2 linked regions of the Homo sapiens genome follow. The gene in region 2 interacts genetically with the main gene of each other region. Each region holds a gene or a part of one and is shown on either strand. Other genes may lie near its edges. The genes, in order: COPE and DUT.

Region 1 (3,687 bases), on a different chromosome or scaffold from region 2:
CTTTTTGTTGTTCGGGTGGGCACAGCTCAATGGTGACATCTGGGAGGCTCCGGCCAGCCCTGCTGCCACCCACCCACCTCCCTCCCTAAATGGTGCGGCCGCCTCTCATCGCGGCTGGGTGCTTGGCCCCAGGACCCTGCCACAGCAGGACTCTGCCTTGGAGGAGGGTTTGCGGGGCGGCAGGAGCAGCACCTGGGGTTAACGCTGACCCTGCAGGGCCCCTCCGGCTTTGCTGAGCTGAGGCCTGAGTTTTTCCTGCCCTGGCCCCCACTTCCTCCAGGCCACTAGGGGTTCTCATTTTGAATCTTGGTGCCCCTCATGATAGCGGCATGACTTCTCTGTGCCTCAGTTTCCCCCGATGCCAACCAGGGCTGCTCAGTGGCCTCTAGGGGCCAGGGTGAAGCATGGGGACAGGGCTGTGCTGCCTCTGGCCTGCAGGAGCAGGTTGTGGCTGTGTGAGGGGCGGGGTGGGGGTCTGCACACCTGCTGCTCGTCACAGACCCTGGTCTCCAGGAACAGCCCTGGATGCCAGTGCCCCAGGACTCTCCCTGAGCGTCAGCTCCCACACGCCCCCAGCAAAGTGACCAGAGCACATCATCAGGTGGAACACCCTGGAGTTGAGATATTTATTAACAGATGGGGGTGCTGGGGGTGGGCTCCTGCCCCCAGAGGGGATGCAGGTGGATGCCGGGTGGGGAGGGCTGCAGGGCTGGCTCCTGGCCTCTGTCCTGGCTTCATGGTCCTGACAGCTCTGGGCCAGCCTCAGGCGCTGGGAGCGTACTGTAGCACCAGCCTGTCAAAGTCGTTCTCCTTTAGCAAGACACATGGCAACACAGGGTGGGGGCAGGGTGTGGGGAGACAGGTGGAGGGAGAGAGAGAGGGCGCATGTGAGCCCAGGCTGAGCTCCAGGCGCCCCCTGGCCTGGTTCTCGGGGACAGGCCATCCCCACCACTCACCTTGGCCTGGTACTCCTTGATGAAGGGATGGGACCTGTGGGCATCCTTCAGCTGGGACAGGTATCGGTTTGTCACCTGCAGGGGAGGCAGGGAGGCAGGTGAGCCGAACACGGGGACCCCACGGTGGCTCTGACCTGCTGGACAGGGGTGGATTGGGGTGAGAGCCACAGTACCCCAGGGGGCTCCTCACCCTGCCTTGGGACTGGGCTGATCTCGGAGAACCTTCAGGGTGGGGGTGGAGGGATGGGCCTGCCCCCTGGAGAGGCGCTGGCATGGAGCTGGCCTCCGTACATGGTGGGGGATGTATTGTGGTGTTCAGGGGAGCAGGTCGGGCAGGGCCCCAGGTGAGGATGGGTTGGGGGGCACAGGGTTTGTGAGGGAGGTGGGCTGCGGTAGGCATACTGTATACAGAGTTTTCCCAGGGGCCTAGGGATTAGGGCCTGGACCCCAGGCTGGGGTCCCAGGGTCTGGACATTAGGGTTGGCCTGGAGCCCTGGGGGCCGCTTACCTCAGGGGGCTTGCCCAGGTGCTGGGACAGGACGATGAGGTTGACCAGCGTCTCTGGGTAGCCACTATCCTGGAGACACAGGCAGACACGGGGAGGCAGGGTCAGCCACTCCAGCCCCCATGCCTGCCCGTCACCCCCACCTCAGGCAGCACCACACAAGGTCACCTCCTCAGAGGTGGGGTGGGACTGACACCGCCCACCGCTCTGCAAGGTGGAGATCTCAGATGATACGGTGCCAAGGGGCCAGCCGCCTCGCTGAGCCTCAGTTTCCCCATCTGTAGTCCAGCCTGGGGTACGACCCCTTGTTTACAGAGACTTGGGAAGGTTGTATTTGTCCCACACATCTCAAAGCCATGGGGCCCAGACCCAGATGGCCTCAACTCCTGCTGTACAACGAACCCCGAGGCCATGGGCAGACCTGCCACCCCTGCACCAGCTCCCAAGGAGCCTTGAAGGAGACCTCGGCAGGGGACCTTGCCTGACTCACTCACTCTAGGCTCCCAGCACACAGGACCCTAGGAAACATCTAGGCCAGGAGACCCAGCCAGAGCCCTGGTGTCTGCTTGGAGCACAGACACACCAACGAGGATGCGCCCAGAGCCCGACCTGCCCACGGCGGCCCATGGCAGGGCACCTTTTTGCAGACCGGACTTTTCTGAGCCTCAGTCTCCACCATGAAGGGGGACACCAGCTTGCGCTCACAGGAGCAGCCATGAGGTGGCTCCAAAGGGAAGTGGGGGGACCTGAGTGCCTCCCAAAACCCAGCAAGAATGCAGGGTGACCACAGCCACGGGGAGGCCACCAGGGCCAAGGGGCACGGCCAGCCAGCCCCAGGTGGTGTTTCAAGAGACAAGGACAGAAGGGAGTCATCTAACTGGTGAGTCACGGAACGTGTCACCTGAGAGGTGTAACAAAAGCCCCCAGAGGATGCGGCCATGAACACAACATGCATCCAAGTGTTCTCAGGTGGCAGGGAGGGGCAGGGTGGTGGAGGAGGGCGCCAGTCTTGCCCCTGGGGCAGCGAGGGACACACAGCCTGTCTGAGATTGCACATCAGGCTGGGAGTTCCTGACTAGCCCTGACTGCTCAGAGCTAAAGATGGACCCTGCTCAGGAGGAGCAGTACCCGGCCTGTGATGGGGCCAGCCTGATACCCCTTGGCCAGCCCCGCTCTGCAAACAACTTTCTGATGATAACTCAGCCCCTGGAAAGTCAGACAGGGAGGAGGGCTTCACCAGTGTTTGTCACTAGATTAAAACTGTTTCTCAGCTGGGCGCACTGGCGCATGTCTATCATCCCAGCACTTTAGAAGGCCAAGGAGGGTGAGAATTGTTTGAGCCCAGGAGTTCAAGACTAACCTGGACAACACAGTGAGACCCCATTTCTAACAAAAAATACAAAAATTAGCCACGCATGGTGGCATACCGTTTCAAAAAACAAACAAAAAACCCCCCAAAATTCGTTTCTCCAAAATGGAAAAAGCTTTGATGTCCTTTCTGATTATAAAAATAATAATCCAGGCTGGGCACAGTGGCTCACGCCTGTAATCCAGTACTTTGGGAGTCCAAGGTGGGCAGCATCATGAGGTCAGGAGATTGAGACCATCCTGGCTAACACAGCAAAACCCCATCTCTACTAAAAATACAAAAAATTAGCTGGGCATGGTGGTGGGCGCCTGTAGTCCCAGCTACTCGGGAGGCTGAGGCAGGAGAATGGCATGAACCCAGGAGGCAGAGCTTGCAGTGAGCCGAGATCACACCACTGCACTCCAGCCTGGGCGACAGAGCAAGACTCCATCTCAAAAAAAAAAAAAAAAAAAATCCACCAAGCATGGTGGCTCACACCTATAATCCTAATGCTTTGGGAGGCTGAGGTGGGACGATCACTTGAGGCCAGGAGTTCGAGACCAACCTGGGCAACACAGCAAGAACAACCCCGTCTTTACAAAATATATATATATTTTTAATTTAACATAACATAAACTCTTCATAAAGACTGCAGATGGCCAGGCGTGGTGGCTCACGCCTATAATCCCAGCACTTTGGGAGGCTGAGGCGGGTGGATCACCTGAGGTCAGGAGTTTGAGACCAGCCTGACCAACATGGCAAAACCCCGTCTCTACTAAAAATACAAAAATTAGCCAGGCGTGGTGGCAGCCGCCTGTAATCCCAGCTACTTGGGAGGCTGAGGCAAAAGAATCACTTGAACCCAGGAGGCGGAGGTT
Region 2 (3,813 bases):
ACTGGCAGAGTGATTAACTGACTTCAGGCAAAAGTTTTACTGTGTCAAGAGTTTGGCATGTCATTTGTTGGAAACCTTTTTTAGTGAAAAACTATCCACACCTACCAGATGTGAATTCTGAACAGAATCCTGAATGCTCAACTTTTCCCTTTGACCCTTATTTAGAGCCTGGGATTTCTAACAACATCTCTCTTCAGAAATAAAAACTGTTGCCAACTATGATAAACTTGTGCCTAAGGGAGATTGTTAAGATTCTCTGCATCCAAGAACACACCACAATGTGATTTTATGAATAACACCATACCAACCACTAGGCAAACTAACTTTCCATTCTTTTACATGAATTTTTTTCCAGAAAGTTGTTTTAAACAGAGCAAAAATTAGTAACAAAGTCGAATAAAAGAAAAAGTTTCCACATAAAAACAATCTGTGAAGTCCCTAAGGACAGAAATTATATCTCACAGAATCTAATATGTGCCAAGTACTATATTAGGTATTTCATACACATTATCATTTAATCCTCCTACCTCTAGAGGCAGGCACACTAATTTCCATTGTAAAATGAGGAAACAGGCTCAGAAAGGTTAAGTAATAACTAGTTAATGACAGAGCTGGGACCTACATCCAGTTGTTATTCCAAAGCTCCCGTTCCTTGAACAATCATTTGAAACTTCATTGAAAATATATACAATTATTTATATCCTTAAGTTACTGTCCCAAAATGACCACAGTTGACCTTGTAAAAGCATTTTTGAACATCGGGCATAACTTACAGAGCCCAAGGAATCCTCAACCCAAGAGTGGGCTGTCAATGTCCACCCTGCTATGTAAAACTCAGCTCCCCTTTAGTCCCTAAAGGGTGTACTTTTGGGGTCCTGTCTTGTCCCACAGCACCACCTGGTGACACTATGGAGAGACACCACACCCACCAAATGTTAGACTAAGGGGCAGGTCTAGGATAGCCAGGTTTCATTAAGTGCTTAGTTAGCCCTTGCAGTGGCACATAAAAGTGAGCTAATTCTGGACGTGTTTAGTTGGTGAGGGGGATGCAGCAGGGTAATCTCCACAATTAATTGCAGTGGAAAGAACAAGGAGGCTGGAATCACACAGAGACTCCAGTTTTTACCACATATCCATGTGGGCTCATTTCTAAGCCAGTTTTCCTGATCTGTTAACAAGCCTCCATAAAGCAGCTCTGTAAAAACGGGTGGAGGAGGAGATCTAGCACACCTACTTATGTGGGGGCCAAGGTATCTTGTTAAGTGAAAGATTCACTACTGATGGGATAAAGGGTCAGTATGTAAGGACCACATAAGTGGGGTCTGAATCCCAGTTGGAGCGGACCTGAAACAAGGAAACCACATCAGGAAAGTAGAAATTTCCTTACAATAAGAGGAGTAGCTCTGTATCAAGAGTAGTTAGCAGAGGACACTGAGGGTTCTTCATGAAAGGTACCACATGAGGTAGGGTTAACTTTGAGACAAACATGAGAAAGGCTTTATTATAAGGGAAACAGGTAACACAGAGGACTGTCTTAACAAATTTAGAGAAAAGTGTTTTCTCTCCTGACTTCAGGGAAAGATTTTCTTCTTAAATTTTGCTAAAGACAGATAGCTCTCTTATGAAGAAAATTCTTACAAGATAGACCTGTGTTTTCTAGAACTTTTGTTGCTTAAATAATTACTTAATTATTATATCATTAAATCTGTCATTATTAATTAGGTAATCATTATTTTAAAAATTAAGTTAGTAGTTAAACAAAATATAATTACTTAAAATAACCACAAAGCTTTTCCTCCTATTATAACAAGCTTTCCTCTAATCATTTTCTTTTCTTAAAAATAAAATCTGTCATTTGAATATTACCTTTTAAAGACAAAGTAAATACTTGCAAACATTTACAGAATAAAAAAGGAAATATATTACCTCCTACATCAATAAAGTGTTTTGCAGCCAAGCCTGACCGTGGAGCTAAAAAACAAAAAAGGAGACATTGGTTATTTTAAGGGGGAAGGGCTATATCAGAGATAACTGATGCAATTTAAGCATGTCATTCTCTTCACCTATAATATCTATATCTTCATCTTAACTTTAGCACATGGTTTTGAATTAAAGAATATATATTCATCATACTGCATTACCAAAGTTGGAAAGACTAGTTTAGAAAAATTCCACAAGGTTTTAATTCAAAACTAACTTAAACCACTCCCATGTGACTTCAGTCAGAATTTGTGGTGCTGCAGACAGGGGAGAAGGACTGCTAGAATGAGCTGAAAGGTGAGCAAGCGGGAACAACTGTAGGCTGCTCTTTCAAGAAGTTAAGCCTCAAAGGGGAAGAAAGAGAAGTATGGCCAGCAGGAACACACTACTGAGGAAGAAGACTTTGGTTTTAAGATGGGACACCACAACATGTACAATGCAGATGGGAAGGGAAAGGAAGAGGAAGGGAGAGGGAAACAAACCTAACCAAATAGTAGCAGACCATAGCCTACAACTTGGGACCCCACTATTCATGATTCAGATGCCAAAAGACATGCCTGTAGGAAACACATGAACCAGAGTAAGATAAATGGGCTAATATCAGTTAAGTAAAAATGCCAAAAACTAAGTCTCAATGATTCAATGCTAGTATACTTTTTAATCCTAAAAAATGAAAAAAATAAAAAGCTAAGGTTACACCTTATTATTGCAGACTCAAGCATCAGGCCTATAATTAATTATCCTAACTTCCAGCATTTTATTTTAGAATAATTTAAATCAGGCACTTTGTCAATAATGCTGCCTCTTTCTGTACTAACCTTTATTTCACTCCATCTCCTGCCCCTTCCCCTGAAAAAATTCTAAAAAATGGAGTCAATGATGCTCAAGAGATGAGATGAGAGCCCATCTTGTTATCTTTTAAGGGCTGAAGTACTGGCAGTTTCCTCACTCATGGCTAATAATATAGTGCCAGTCTAGCTCCTTTCCCTGGAGGAGGGCGTCACAGCTCCATTGCCTCCTTTATGTTTACTCTGAAGTTAGTCAAAAAGAACTTACGCTCTTGCAAAGAACTGTCTGGTAACAACTGATCCGCTCCAGAAAAATCAAACCTGTTGACGTGTACTCCATTTTGTCCTAGCTCCTCCCAGTGCCTCTACAACACTGAAGAGTATCCCTTACCCTAACCCCATGGCCAAACAAGAAAAGGTTAAGTAGGCTTACACATTCTGGGACCAACAGGTCAGAAGTTTTACTCTCATAATATAAAATGCCATGTTCTGAGAACAGCCTTCTAGGCCAGTGTGAGCCTAAAAGCTCCAGTGAGGAAGGAGAAAAATAAAAGGGTCAAAAAGAGGCAAAGCAGAGATGTAAATAAAGCCTTTCAAAGAGTGCATTTGCTATCACAAATGGTGCTTCTTTTAGGACACAGCCCAAGCAATATTGCCTGCTTATTACCCCAAATGAAACATGAAGAATCTATCACAAAGGAGAACTTGACAAATAGTTACCTGTTTCTTAAATGACTTACCCACTCTTCCATAACACCCAGAAGGGAGCGCTATCTGAATGTCCGTTTTCACAACAGCTTTCTCCATAGGTGGTATTGTGTAATCATAGGCACTAAGAAAATATTGAAAGAAAATAACTGCAAATCTATTTATAAAATTGTTTTTATATTTTCTTTGTGACCAAGCATACAAAATTACTTTCAGTGTATTTAATGAATTAATGCAACTTTAGTTTCTAAAATCAACCTTGCTATGATGAATTACCAATTCATCTTAAAAGTTTATGAAGAAGGTAGAGGTGGCTATTTTATTATTAAAAAGACAG

The links.
Region 1: changes in DUT (region 2) and COPE together harm fitness more than expected from each alone (negative genetic interaction), as found in Homo sapiens cells (one large-scale study listed by BioGRID).

Annotation. Positions count from the first base shown.
Region 1 is NC_000019.10:18,898,917-18,902,603, forward strand, and holds the end of COPE (coatomer subunit epsilon), read right to left. Parts: intron 1,534-3,687; coding exon 1,465-1,533; intron 1,032-1,464; coding exon 957-1,031; intron 811-956; coding exon 763-810; 3' UTR 598-762; downstream 1-597. UniProt on the Homo sapiens protein: The coatomer is a cytosolic protein complex that binds to dilysine motifs and reversibly associates with Golgi non-clathrin-coated vesicles, which further mediate biosynthetic protein transport from the ER, via the Golgi up to the trans Golgi network.
Region 2 is NC_000015.10:48,334,204-48,338,016, reverse strand, and holds part of DUT (deoxyuridine 5'-triphosphate nucleotidohydrolase, mitochondrial isoform 1 precursor), read right to left. Parts: intron 3,601-3,813; coding exon 3,509-3,600; intron 1,972-3,508; coding exon 1,927-1,971; intron 1-1,926. UniProt on the Homo sapiens protein: Catalyzes the cleavage of 2'-deoxyuridine 5'-triphosphate (dUTP) into 2'-deoxyuridine 5'-monophosphate (dUMP) and inorganic pyrophosphate and through its action efficiently prevents uracil misincorporation into DNA and at the same time provides dUMP, the substrate for de novo thymidylate biosynthesis.